Linked DNA regions of Homo sapiens. The protein of the gene in region 1 binds, or shares a complex with, the protein of each later gene. Each region holds a gene or a part of one and is shown on either strand. Other genes may lie near its edges. A codon is read from its position in the direction of its gene.

Evidence for each region.
Region 2: the proteins of SF3B6 (region 1) and SF3B1 are in contact, whole or in part, in a crystal structure (PDB 2F9J), measured with the Homo sapiens proteins. Residues at the interface, in NP_057131.1 of Homo sapiens: Arg12, Leu13, Pro14, Pro15, Glu16, Val17, Arg19, Ile20, Ala32, Met35, Tyr36, Arg46, Gln47, Ile48, Arg49, Val50, Gly51 (codon at 4,879), Asn52 (codon at 4,882), Thr53 (codon at 4,885), Thr56 (codon at 4,894), Thr59 (codon at 4,903), Ala60 (codon at 4,906), Tyr61 (codon at 4,909), Val63 (codon at 4,915), Glu65 (codon at 4,921), Asp66 (codon at 4,924), Ile67 (codon at 4,927), Phe68 (codon at 4,930), Tyr92 (codon at 5,002), Ala97 (codon at 5,486); in NP_036565.2 of Homo sapiens: Trp388, Ile392, Arg395, Asn396, Arg397, Pro398, Leu399, Ser400, Asp401, Glu402, Glu403, Leu404, Asp405, Ala406, Met407, Phe408, Pro409, Glu410, Gly411, Tyr412, Lys413, Val414, Leu415.

The regions. Positions count from the first base shown.
Region 1 is NC_000002.12:24,066,821-24,073,336, reverse strand, and holds the end of SF3B6 (splicing factor 3B subunit 6), read left to right. Parts: intron 1-4,877; coding exon 4,878-5,016; intron 5,017-5,485; coding exon 5,486-5,575; 3' UTR 5,576-5,751; downstream 5,752-6,516.
Region 2 is NC_000002.12:197,431,957-197,439,983, forward strand, and holds the start of SF3B1 (splicing factor 3B subunit 1), read right to left. Parts: upstream 3,073-8,027; 5' UTR 3,044-3,072; coding exon 3,016-3,043; intron 1-3,015. UniProt on the Homo sapiens protein: Component of the 17S U2 SnRNP complex of the spliceosome, a large ribonucleoprotein complex that removes introns from transcribed pre-mRNAs.

The DNA.
Region 1 (6,516 bases):
GACACCCGAACTCATATGAAAGGGCTAGTGACTTAAGAGTCCATCTGAAAGGATTTCTAAAGTTTTTATTTTAAAAAAATTATTATTTTACCACAGTAATGACTACGTATAAAGTTTTTATTTCTAGTCGGAATTCCGTCTTGTATGACTTGAGAGCTCCTTCCTGGCTTTAGGACTATGAGGTCTTGAGGACCCTCCTTTTGAATGACACTGTCCCTCCAGAGAGTAAACCAAGAGCTGGAAATACATGATCATTGGTACTCAGATGGGGATGAAAGTGAAAGTGTTATAGACCAGCTGTCCTTTTTAGGAGGTCTCAGTCCTTTGAGCATCTGATAAAAGCTTTAGACTCCTTCCACAGAAGAATACACTCATGTTGCATATATTTCAGGGGATACATGGACTCTAGGTCAAGAAACCCTGCTCTAGATACAGAATGGTATACAAGGCCAGGAGTTCAAGACCTGCCTGGCCAACATGGCGAATCCCTGCCTTGGGGATCAGGAGACAAGATTCTACTTCAGGCCTTGTTACTAGCCATGTGTGTGACTAGTTGCCTAGCTTTTTTGGTTTTCTCTTCATGTATGAGATAATCTGGGTGGTGGCCTTTTAGCTTTTAATGTGGAAACAGCATAGATTGGTTGTAAGGCCTGGGTTCAAATACTGGCTTGCCTACTCTTACGAAACTGGAGAAAATATTTAACCTTATCTGGGTTTCAATTATCTATGAAATACAGTCTTCCTAACCTACTGTCTTAAAAGAATTTTAATTTGGATGAAATTACACAGTGTCTGTGAAGGTACTTTATCAGTTTTCCTTCCCAGTGTACATTAGCCACTCTTCTGCTCCCATAGCATTTCCATGTGTCTCTCCTAGGTTAACACATGGTTTTGCTGTTGTCTCTATATTCATCTGTCACCCTGGGCAGGTTGTGAGTTCCTCCAGGGCTCGTACCATATATTATTTTTGTTTTTGTGTTGATAGCACTTGTGCGATACATGGTAAGCACCCGATGTATACTAAATGAATAATATAGAAAATAGTAGAATAGGCCAGATGTGGTGGCTCACACCTGTAATCCCGGCACTTTGGGAGGCCGAGACAGGCAGATCACCAGAGGTTAGGAGTTCGAGACCACCCTGGCCAAATGGTGAAACCCCCTCTCTAAAAAAAAATACAAAAATTAGCTGGGCATGGTGGCACGCGCCTGTAATGCAATTACTCAGGAGGCTCAAGTGGGAGAATCGCTTGAACCTGGGAGGCTGAGGCTGCAGTGAGTGAGCCGAGATCATGCCACTGCACTCCAGTCTGGGCGACAGAGTGAGATCCTGTTTCAACAAAAGAAAAGAAAATAGAAGAATAATATAAAAAGTGGTTGTGATTGGTTTACTAGGGCATTATAAAATTTATTGATAGTACTCAATTAAGGGATGCTTAAAATCAGTGAAGTTAGAGAATGTTTCAGAAAGCCAAAATGAAAGGACAGGGAATAAAGCAGGGGCATCTTCAGAAGAGTGCAGAGCAGCTCAGAACCTTTGTGCTTCTATTTTCCTTGTATCTGGAATGGTTTTCACCAGCTCATCTCATGCCTGGCTCCTCCTCATTCTTCAGGTCTCAGCTTCAGTGTCACCTTTTCAGAGGGGTTTTCCCTGACCACCCTAGCTGAAGTAGCTCCCTGTTTCCCTATCTGTTACAGCTTTCTACTTCTTGTATGAAACATTTCTTTTTTTAAGATGGAGTTTCGCTCTTGTTGCCCAGGCTGGAGTGCAATGGCACGATCTCGGCTCACTGCAAACTCCGCCTCCCAGGTTCAAGTGGTTCTCCAGCCTCAGCCTCCTGAGTTGCTGAGATTACAGGCACCCACCAGCATGCCTGGCTAATTTTTGTATTTTTAGTAGAGATGGGGTTTCACCACGTTGGCCAGGCTGGTCTTGAACTCCTGACCTCAGGTGATCCTCCCACCTCGGCTTCCCAAAGTGCTGGGATTACAAGCATGAGCCACCGTGCCAAGCCGAAACATTTCTTAAGATTTATAATTATTTCAGGGCTGGGCGCAGTGGCTCACGCCTGTAATGCCAGCACTTTGGAAGGCTGAAGTGGGCAGATCACAAGGTCAGGAGTTTGAGAACAGCCTGACCAACATGGTGAAACCTCGTCTCTACTAAAAATACAAAACTTAGCCAGGCGTGGTGGTGCATGCCTATAATCCCAGCTACTCAGGAGGCTGAGGCAGGAGAGCCGCTTGAACCCGGGAGGTGGAGGTTGCAGTGAGCCAAGATCATGCCACTGTACTCCAGCCTGGGCGACAGAGTGCGACTCCGTCTCAAAAAGAAAAAAAAAAGATTTATAATGATTTCATATTTATTTAATGTCTTTCTACTGCCTGAATATAAGCTTGAAGGAAGGGATGATGCTTATCTTTTTCACTATTGTATTTCTAGTGCCTGTCGCAGAAAGAACATAGTCTATGTGTTGAATAGGTTAATAGAAGTTTAGGGTACAGGAGCTTAGGTCTAAATTATAGATTGAGAAACAGCTGTTTTTCTGTTCCATTACTGTGATCATGCTTTATTGTATACCTGGCACCTGGCACTAGGGTGACCAACCTTCCCAGTTTGCCCAGTACTGAGAGATTTTCTGGGACACTGGACTTTCAGTGCTAAAACCTGGACAGTCCCAGTCAAATCAGGATGATTTGGTTTGACCCTACCTGGCATGTAGCAGGCACTTGGTACTTTGTACTTTTTAAAACTCTTTGATACTTGTTACCTCTTTTGATTATTAAACCCACGTGGAAGGTAGGGCACGTGATAGAGCCTGATGGCACTGGATACATGAAGCATCCGAAGCTCACAGAGGCTAAGTTACACGCTTAGGTGTTCTTATTCCTACTCTAAGATTTTAATGCCAGTCAAGAAAATTGTAGCACTTTGGGAGGCTGAGGTGGGTGGATCACTTGAGGCCAGGAGTTCGAGACCTGCCTGGCCAACATGGCAAAACCCCATCTCTACTAAAAATACAAAAATTAGTCGGGCATGGTGGCGCACACCTGCACAAGAATTGGTTGACTCTGTCTCAAAAAAATAAGAAAATAATGTTAGCTCAGTGTCCAATACGTGGTAGGTACAGATACATGCTTTTAAAAGTTCAAATTATAATATGGCTCTCAAGGTGTGAGGTTGATAATTAGGGCTGGGACACTTAAGATGGAGAGTCTTTAAAGTGGGGTTAGTGTCTATCCCTATTCTAGTTCCTAAGAAGATATAAGAGGAAGAAAGAGAGTTGCTTTGTTTAGTTTTGTTTTGAGCTTCCTGAACAAAGTGTGTGTGAGAGAACTGATAGAAGAAAGTAGATCTCCACTTTTCAAAGGCGTATTAGCGTCTGCCTTATGCGTGGCACTAAAGGAATAAATGAAGTACGCATAAGATCACCTTTGCTCTTAAGGAACTGAAAATCTTATTAAGTTTTTAGAAGTCAAAAGTCTGAAAGTTGTTAAGACTTGCCAGAGCCTAAAGAACATTCTAAAACCCCTCGTCAGGCCCACACAACCTGACAAAGTGAGCGCATTCATTGACAGTGGCACCCTCCAATCACCCCCAGTACCCTATTCCTTTTCAATTTTACAGGAAGCACAAGCTTGAACAGGGCCCAGACTATAGTCCTATCCTAGATCAAGTCTAGGCAGGTACCTCCTCTTCCCATGGCTCCACTGCTTTTATTCAACCCTATGTAAGGACTGTGGCAGATGGAGAGTCAGCCCACAGTCTTAAACCTCATTCCACAGTTGCACTGGGTGGTTGGAACACAGATGGAGGCAAGGGGGCCATCTTGTCACCCAGAGCCTGAACTGAGTGGGACCTCTACCCATTGTCTCCACTAACAGTCACATGGCCACCTGCTGCCTGCAATTTAGCGTTGCGTTGCTCCTCAAACTTCTCTACCTCTCCCAGAGGAAGTTGGTGAGGTGAAGGAAGGAAGTGGCCAGGAATAACTACACTAACAGCAACCTCGTATCCATAAGTAAGGTTAGCTTCCACTTCCAGCCACCTTCCAGCATTCTGCCCTGGCTCACTGATAACCCTATCCACAAGCACACTTCCACTCCCATCTTTGCAGAAGCCTAGCCCTTCTCCCTAGCCACACAGCTGTATCGTGCATTAGCACTTGAGTTGTATTAAAAATGAATGTAGACCGGGTGTGGTGGCTCATGCCTGTAATTCCAACACCTTGGGAGGCTGAGGCAGGCGGATCACTTGAAGTCAGGAGTTTAAGACCAGCCTGGGGAACATGATGAAACCCTGTCTCTACTAAAAATACAAAAATTAGCTGGGCATGGTGGCACATGCCTCCAGTCCCAGCTACTTGGGAGGCTGAGACACAAGAATCACTTGAACTTGAGAGGCAGAGGTTGCAATGAGCTGAGATTGTGCCACTGCACTCCAGCCTAGGCAACAGAGTGAGAGTCTATCTCAAAAAAACAAAAACAAAAACAAAAACAAAACAAAACAAAGACAACGTAGAGCCAGTCAGGGTGGCAAGAGCACCTGTAGTCCCCACAACTCACGAGGCTGTTCTGTGTAGTAGCTGTGTTCTTAGTATTCCTGATGTGACAGTCAGCTTGACCTATGGATATTTTAGTTAAGATAAAAACGAAGAACAAAATTACCTAATTCAAGAAATTACAGGCTTATCCGGTATATCTATCCATGTTTATTTCCTCTGATGGTTTCAGGTTGATTTCAAAATACTTAACTAAAAACGTATTTCAATTTACTGTTTTTAAAAGACAGTTACCAGTTTAAAAGACAGTTCTGTAAGTCAACTATCAATGCTCAGGTAAATGTATATCTTAATTAAGTTTAACTTACCTCTCCAGGGGGAACACACCTGAAACTAGAGGAACAGCTTATGTGGTCTATGAGGACATCTTTGATGCCAAGAATGCATGTGATCACCTATCGGGATTCAATGTTTGTAACAGATACCTTGTGGTTTTGTACTATAATGCCAACAGGGTAAGTATAGCAAAGTTCTCATTGTGTAGTGATCTCATTTGAGAATTAGTGTAGAACTGGCCGGGCGCGGTGGCTCATGCCTGTAATCCCAGCATTTTGGGAGGCCGAGGTGGGCGGATCACGAGGTCAGGAGATCGAGACCATCCTGGCTAACACGGTGAAACCCCGTCTGTACTAAAAATACAAAAAATTAGCCGGGCGTGGTGGCGGGCGCCTGTAGTCCCAGCTACTCGGGAGGCTGAGGCAGGAGAATGGCGTGAACCCCAGGGGGTGGAGCCTGCAGTGAGCCAAGATCACGCCACTGCACTCCAGCCTGGGCAACAGAGAGACTCCGTCTCAAGAGAATTAGTGTAGAACTGTACTGTGATGATATATGTCTACTATGACTTTCTTTTTTGGCTAATGCTATTGATGAAATTCATTTGGCTGTAGATTGGTAATTTAATTTTGGTGCTTACCACATTTCCAGGCATTTCAGAAGATGGACACAAAGAAGAAGGAGGAACAGTTGAAGCTTCTCAAGGAGAAATATGGCATCAACACAGATCCACCAAAATAAATGTTTTCTACATTTTCATTTGGACTAAATCCCACGAATGACAACTACCACCTTTTTTTCCTTTTTAATTAATACTAAATATTGTGATTTCTTATTTGAGGTTCAAAATGACCTGCTTGAAACTTTGATACATATTGGAATACATTATGTTAATAAACTTGTAGCTTTTTGTGAAACACCTCAGTCTTTTCTCTTGAACTTTCCCTTCCTGTTTGATACCAGGAAAAAACAGTTGAAGCTTATCAAGAATTGTAGGTGCTCCTAGGGATTCTGAGTTTCTTGAGAACAGGATCTCTTTACATTCTTAATGCCTCCAGGGCCCGGTGCAGTGCTTAGCCATCAAAGGAACTTGCTGTTTATTGCATGTCCATTAATAATGAAATCTTCATAACAACTCAGTGAAGATAGGTATTTGCATTTTGCAGGTGAGGAAACCAAAGTTCATGATGTTGGTTGAATGAATAAAATGCTAACATACAAAGCTGGTGTGATAACAACCAGTTATTAACCAAGCCTTTACATTTGAATAATGCTTGCTTTATAGTTAACAAAACACCTGTGTCAATATGGGTACCCTTGTCTTTAGAACAGAGGTCTATTATAGAAATGGTCATTTAGATGATAGTACATTGTTAGAAACTTAGATTTGCCTCTTTAAATTGTTTTTTAATTATTATGGGTACATAATAATTGTCACATTGGTAGAAATTTGAGAGCAAGCTGCTTGGGTAGTGGCGTTGGTTGTTACATGTCTAAGATTGTATTTATGTAGACTTTTCCTTTAGTTATTAAGTATCTGTAGGTATATTGGACCTTAGCTCATAATATATCTTTGCCATAAATACTTAATGCTCATTCTTATTATCATGAGTTCCCATGACATGGAAACAGTATGGTTATTACCCCATTCATCATCATGGCAGCTTGGGAGAATATAGCCG
Region 2 (8,027 bases), about 170 Mb from region 1:
TAAAAAAAAATTGTAAAAATTAGCCAGGCATGGTAGCACACGCCTGTAGTTGTAGCTACTCAGGAGGCTGAAATGGGAGGATCACTTGAGCCCAGCAGTTGTAGGTTAAGTGAGCTATGATCACGCCACTGCACTCCAACCTGGGCAACAGGGCAAGACCCGGTCTCAAAAATAAACACAGGAAAAAATATATAGATCAGCAAGATACACAATAACAAAACTATAACTATTCCAGCCATTTATCAAGCAAAGAATTAGGGAAAAAACTTTTTCAGCTTTGTGATGTCCCAAAAAATCTAATTCAAAGGATTAGTGGCAAAACAAGCTGATATGTAGGATTTTTGGTTAAACCATTTTCCCCTTACAAAACAGAGAATAATGTGTGTTCCCTGTTTGTATGCCAAAGTCAGCAGTATCTGAAGAACTGCTGGATGGCAAGATTATGCATATTCATAACCATACACCTGACATAATACGTGGAAAGATCTAAAAGATTTTATCTGATTTGAGTAATTCCAGTTCTTTTTATATTTCAATCCTGGAAAGCATAAGCCACATTGGCCAGGGTAAAATATAATCAGATTGGTTAAAGAGGATGTGAGGCCTGATCCTAATAGAAATGTTTGAAAGGGTTCAGGCATGGTGGCTCATGCCAGTAATCCCAGCACTTTGGGAGGCCAAGGTGGGAGGATCACTTGTGGTCAGGAGTTTGAGACCAGCCTGGCCAACATGGCGAAACCCTGTCTCTAAAAATACAAAAATTAGTCGGGTGTGGTGGCACATGCCTGCGATACTAGTACTCAGGAGGCTGAAGCAGGACAATCGCTTGAACCTAAAAGGCGGAGGTTGCTGTGAGCCGAGATTGCACCACTGCACTTCTGCCTGGGCAACAGAAAAAGACCCTATCTCAAAAAAAAATAAAAAATAAAAAAAGAAATGTTTGAAAGGAATATGACAGCAAAATAAATAAATAGTTATCAGTTTATCTCAATCTTGGAGCTAAGGAGAAGAGAAAATCTTAACACAACAGACTATTCTAAGCAATATAACATTTATACTGAGTACTATAGCAGCACTGCCCCAAAAAGCATTAATTCTGCTTCAGTTTATCAAAAATGGCTTAACAAGAGAAAACAGTGATGGACCATGAAGAACTAGAGTTCCATTAGGAAGGAAGCAACAAGCTATGTCAGTATTATGTGTATTTCTACTAAACATTTATCATCCCCTGACATATCCCATAGGGATGGGCACAGACAGTGCTCAAGTATTGAATGTTCTGCTATTTTCTTATGGTATCACTTAATTCACATTGATAGAATAATCTCAAAAATAACAAGTTTGGCCAATGAATAGCAATAGACCAAAGTTTTTAGCTGGGTTTCTAAAAAATTCAGGAAAACTGATCAGAATTCTGATTTTCCTGTCTGAGGGCATCTTATACTGAAGTTACCAATAAATAAGTATCAAAGCTATACTATCAATATCCCCAAATGAATAACATCCTGAATGAACAAAAACAGCACAACTTTATATTTTCTACTTACTTTGCAAAAGGTTATATTTGAGATAGTCTAAAGACAAAATAATAAAGCCTAGGAATACTAAGAGAGCATTTAAATCCTAAATACCTAAAATGGTATACTAATATTAAAGTCATTGACAATTCATTAGCATGTTTGATAAATAGCAGAAAGCTGGACTTCAGGTCCTCTGGGTGACCCAACTATTCAAAGCCATTCACATTCTGGTCCTAATCCAACCTTTCCAGATTCATTTATTTCTTCTCTACTTGCACCCTCTGTTCCTGCTACAGTGGACTACTACTCAAACACACCTTTCACGATTCAATACCTTGTTACAAGATGTTCTCAGGCTCAGATGTCCTTCCCGATTTAAAACTGACTGATCCTTTTAAAACACGGTCATGTAACCTCCTCAGTGAAACAACCCTAAACATAATCATTCCGTTACCCAGGTTCCCAGAACATGCTGCTTTTTCTTCTACTTAAGCATGCATCTGGCCTCATGAGAGAATGAGAACATACACATCTGTTTCTCCTATCAGACTGTAAAATTTTGGATGGCCTCAGTCTCTTACCTCTCACAGACTAATACCGAGCCAAATACCCAGAAAGAACATATGAAACAAAAGTGACTTAGAAGTCTCGTTCTCAGTGAAAATCTCGGATTCCAAGTCAGAAATCAAAGAATGCAGTTCCAACTTCTCATGCCTCGTCTTTTCTGAAAAGTGATCCCATTTTCTGTCATCTCTGGATACTTCCTAATGAACTCCAGTCTATTCCCAACGTTTTCCTAATTTGCACACTCTGTATTCCATAAAACGATCAACTAGCTTGAAAGCTTCGGCCATTAATGAAAGTAATTTATGTTTTCCTCTTCCATCTGCTCCTCCAATAACCAGTCTCCAAAGAAAAAGATCAATATTATACTAAAAGTGACTAAGGGAGGGAAAACAACTACCAGATTTTATCCCCAAATCGTTTCGTGCAAGAAAAATAAACAAGTAACTGACGCTTGAAGACACACAAGGGTAGGAGTAACGGAATCTCGGTTTAACCAAATTCGATTCAGTCTGCCGGAAAAGCGGCTGCCGTATTTCAGTGCTTTTCTGACCCTCTTCTGCACAAACTATGGGGACGACAGTGTCGAGAGGCGAGTGAGACCTTCTCCCCACGCCCGCTTCCCCGATCCCTTGCCCACGAATCCTACTGAGGAAGCCGCTTAAACGAGGCCCTCTGGTCAGAGAAGAGAAGCTACTCTGAAGTAGCAGGTCCCAAACACTGAACAAAGCGCCTGTCGGGGGTGTAAGAGGAGGACGCCATTACGCGGGGCAGTGGCCTGCGCCGCTGGCGCGGAGGAGACGACCCTTGGCCCCGAAACGCGGGCTCAGCTCCTACGAAAGAAACCATAGAAAAAGGCAGAATCCTAGGAAAAAAGGCTTTTATTAGGCTAGCAACGAAGAAAACACGTAAGCAGGGAAAGACCGCTTACCTTCGTGAGTCTTGGCGATCTTCGCCATTTTGTCCACTCGAACACACAGACGGAACTGGCGCTCCCAAGAACTTCCGCTCGTCGCCGCCGCCACGGAGAAAAATAGCTGGGGGCTGCACTCTGCGCGTGCGCCAAACGGGAGCGCGCTCCGTCGGGTGACACGTGACAGAACTGCCACCTAGAGGGAACCGCGAGGTGCATTGTGGGTGGGGGAGGAGACACGGTTGGGCCCTGAAGTCGCCTGCGTGGTGACCCAGGAAATCCCCGAGCCGAGCCGTAAGGTCCTTAAGTGAGTAACTTTGCCCTGGAGGAAAGTGGATTCTACGAAGGGAGTTAAGAACAGACACTGAGTCCCAGCAACTCTGGAGGCTGAGGCGGGAGCATCGCTTGAGCCCAGGAGTTCGAGGCAGCCGTGAGCCGTAATCGTGTCGCGCCACTGTACTCAAGCCTCCAGACCGGGCGACAGAGCAAGACCCCGAGACCCCTCCCATTAAAAAAAAATGAACACTGTACGAAACGCTGCGGTTTCAGAGCTGGAAGAGACCTCAGACATTCAATCCCTTTTCCCAAAATTCACTGGAAGAGCTCGAGGAAAACTTTCCCTTGCAGCTGTCTCAGTCTTTACAGTGCTTAGTTACGAAGACAGTCTTAACAGTCCCATCTTTCGCCCTGTAATTCAAGGTCATTTTTCATTCTTTCTGTTTAATAATTGCAAATAATTTGGGTAGGAATTTCGTTGAGCCTCACAAATCGTTGCTGAGTTGCACAGTGACAATCTTGCCACCCTTTTAAAGCCTTTTACTTTATGGGTTCCTAGAAAACCACTCATCGTCATTATTAACATTCATTAGATGTTTCTCTTAAATCCTAGACGGTATTCCTAAATCAGGAATTTTAATAGATCAGAATACGGCAGTCTGTTTTCCTGGGCATCAATTATAATATAACCTTGTACTGTCACACTGGTCTTTGACTTCGACGATGAAAAAGAAAGAAAGGCTCAGAAAGATGGGTCCCGGAAGCAGCCGAGGAAAACAGGTAGTTATCAAGGTTAGAGCCATCACAAAGAGAGGAGTACCTCGCTATGTGATAAACCTGCAACCCAAATACTAACCATACCATGGGTCAGTATGGTCGTTTGAAGGGAGGGAAATGGTATGGGTGTATTCCTCTTGCAGGAAGACCCCATATCTACTTTGGGTAAAGTGAGGAGCCATTTTCCTGAGGCTAGCGGTAGGTGGGAGATATATGGACAATGGCACTGGACTGAGAGCTTAGATAACCTGTCCCTGGTGACTCCTGACCTGCAGCCTTGCTCCCTCTTTCCCTCTCACCAGACTCCCTCCCTTCTTCAGATCAGGTGACACAAACGATTTTTTTTCTGTTTTTTTGACACACAGTCTTGGTTTGTTGCCCAAGCTGGAGGGCAGTGGTGCGATCACAGCTGACCCTAACTTCGACCTTAAGGTTCAAGAGACTCTCCTGCCTCAGTCTCCAGAGTAGCTAGTACCACCAACATGGGCCACCATACCCAGCTAATTTTTATTTTTTGTAGAATGAGATCTTACTATATTCCCCAGGCTGGTCTCAAACTCTTGGCCTCAAGCAGTCCTCCTGCCTCAGACTCCTAAAGTGCTGGGATTATAGGCGTGAGCCACCACAGATTTTTATTAGCATCAGTAAAGGAATAAATTTGATAAATTAAAATTTTTGGCCAGGCGTGGTGGCTCATGCCTGTAATCCCAGCACTTTGGGAGGCTGAGGCAGGCGGATCACAAGGTCAGGAGTTCAAAACTAGCCTGACCAACACAGTGAAACCCCATCTCTACTAAAAATACAAAAATTAGCCGGGCATGGTGGCACCTGCCTATAATCCCAGCTACTCAGGAGGCTGAGGCAAGAGAATCGCTTGAACCCAGGAGGCGGAGTTTGCAGTGAGCGGAGATAGTGCCACTGCACTCCAGCCTGGGCAACAGAGCGAGACTCCGTCTCAAAAAAAAAAAAGAAAAAAAGATGTGATGGTTAATTTTAAGTGTCAACTTGACTGGATTAAGGAATACCTAGAAACCTGGTAAAGCTATTTTGTGGTGTGTCTGTATGGGTGTTTCCAGAGATTAGCGTGTGAGTACAAGTGGGCTAGGTGGGGAAGATCGGCCCTCCGTGTGGCCAGGTACCATCCAGTCTGCTGGGGACCCCAGGAAGAACAGAAGCAGAGAAAAGGTGAAAATGTCAATTTATGTGCGAAGGCTGGCTACATCCAATCTTCCTCTATTGTTGTTTTTGGACAACGACCCCAAGCTGCTCAGCCTTTGGAATCCTGGATTTACACCAGCAGCACCCTATCCCCACCCCTTCCTCCTGGTTCTCAGGCCTTTGTCCTTGGACTGAGTTACATCATTGTCTTCGCTGATTCTAAACCTTGGGACTTGGACTGAGCTACCAGCATCTCAGGGCCTCTAGTTTGCAGATGGCCTGTCAAGGGACTTAGTCTCCAAAATTGCAGGAGCCAGTTTCCCTAATAAATCCCAATGTGATAGTTCTTATCCCACAGGCCCACTTTAGTTCAGTTTAGTTTTGCTTTGTTTTTAGAAATGGGGTCTTGCTCTGTTGCCCCAGCTGTAGTGCAGTGGCTCACTCCAGCCTCAAACTCCTGGGCTCTGGCGATCCTCCCAACTCAGCCTCCTGAGTAGCTAGGATTACAGGTGCACACCACCATGCCCAGCTACTTTTTAATTTTTTTTTTTTGAGACAGAGTCTTACTCTTTCACCCAAGCTGGAGTGCAGTGGCGTAATCTCAGCTCACTGTAACCTCTGCCTCCCTAGTAGCTGGGACCACAGATGTGTGCCACTACACCCAGCTAATTTTTTATTTTCAGTAGAGACAGGGCTTTGCCATGTTGGCCAAGCTGGTCTTGAACTCCTGGCCTCAAGTGACCCACCCACATCGACCTCCCAAAGTGCTGGGATTACAGGCGTGAGCCATCTCACCTGCCTACTTTTTAAATTTTTTGTAGAGACAGGGTCTTGCTATATTGCCCAGGCTAATCTCGAACACCTAGCCTCAAGCGATCTTCCCATCTGGGCCTCTCAAAGTGCTGGGATTACAGGCAGGAGCCCCTTAACCAACTTCGAGAACTTGGGAAATAAGATGTGGTGGGTTCTTGCCACCGTGAGCCAAACCTGGGTCAGAACTTCATGTGTGATCTGGCCCCTACATACACCCACTCTGATAGGATATTATGACACTTTGGATAACAATGTCGATTTGGACCTTGTGTCCCACAGGTCTTAAAATATTTGGTTATTCCACTTTTCCCAGTGTATAGTTACCAGAGCAAATGATAGTTCCCTTTGGAGAAGTATTAAGGGATCATTAACAAATACTAACAAAAAAAAGGAAAACAAAACAAACACTGTGGTGTTACACAGTCCTTCCTGGGGACCTAGCTTCTGCTTCAATTAGATGACCTGAACTCATTTCTAGATCTGAAAACTACCTTAGGTCTGGAAACTAGCTGAAGATCACTTTTTTTTTTAAATTGGGACAAGTGCCTTCAGCCTCCTAATGATTCATGTTTTATTTCTCTTGGTTGCACAGATTGAGCAGTACCCTTGTAGGCTGCCCATCAATCTTGCCTCTAAGGATACCCAGTTGTATGAATCATATATTTCTGCAGGTCAACCATTCTGACCTTATGCTAATTGTGACAATTGTGCCCACCTTGCTGCTGACAGTTAAGCATCACTAAAGTAGGAAATAGGGTCCAAACCGACACTACTTAAGGAGGGCAAGTAGTGATGGGACCTCATCATCCCATTGCTATCATGGAGCTCATCACTGTCACTGCATCTGCTGCTTTCACCTAAGGTCTGTAAAAGACAGCCACATTGGTGACAGTACCAAGCTGAGCTGTATCAGTGAAGTCAGAGGCAAACGGAAAAAGCAGTAATAGTGATTCTTTTTTTTCTGTTGTGTTTTTTGTTTTTTTTTTTTGAGACGGAGTCTTGCTCTGTTCCCCAGGCTAGAGTGCAGTGGCACGACCTTGGCTCGCTGCAACCTCTGCCTCCTGGGTTCAAGTGATTCTCCTGCCTCAGCCTCCCAAGTAGCTGGGACTACAGGCACATGCCACCACGCCCGGCTAATTTTTGTATTTTTAGTAGAGACGGGGTTTCACCATATTGGCCAGGCTGGTCTTGAACTCCTGACTTCGTGATTCAACCACCTCGGCCTCCTGAAGTGCTGGGATTACAGGCATGAGCCACTGCGCCCAGCCTAGGGCCATGCTACTCTTAATACTAATTCCTAGGTGGAGTGTGGTGGCTCACATCTATAATCCCAACAATTTGGGAGGCTGAGGTGCAGGGATTGCTTGAGACCAGGAGTTGGAGACCAACCTGGGCAACATAATGAGACTTTGTCTCAATTAAAATAAAAATCAGTCCTGGAGCTGTGGCTCACGCCTGTAATCCCAGCACTTTGGGAGGCCGAGGCGGGTGGATCACCTGAGGTCGGGAGTTTGAGACCAGCCTGACCAACATGGAGAAACCCCATCTCTACTAAAGATACAAAATTAGCCGGGTATGGTGGCACATGCCTGTAATCCCAGCTACTCGGGAGGCTGAGGCAGGAGAATTGCTTAAACCTGAGAGGCAGACGTTGCAGTGAGCCAAGATGGTACCATTGCACTCCAGCCTGGGCAACAAGAGCAAAACTCCATCTCAAAAAAATAAAATAATAAAATAAAATAAAAATCAGGTCAGGCGCGGTGGCTCACACCTGTAATCCCAGCACTTTGGGAGGCCAAGGTGGGTGGATCACTTGAGGTCAGGAGTTCAAGACCAGCCTGGCCAACATGGTGAAACTGTGTCTCTACTAAAAATGTAAAAATTAGCCAGGCATGGTGGCAGGCACCTGTAATCCCAGCTACTCGGGAGATTGAGGCACAAGAATTGCTTGAACCCGGGAGGCGGAGGTTGCAGTGAGCCGGGAGCATGCCACTGCACTCCAGCCT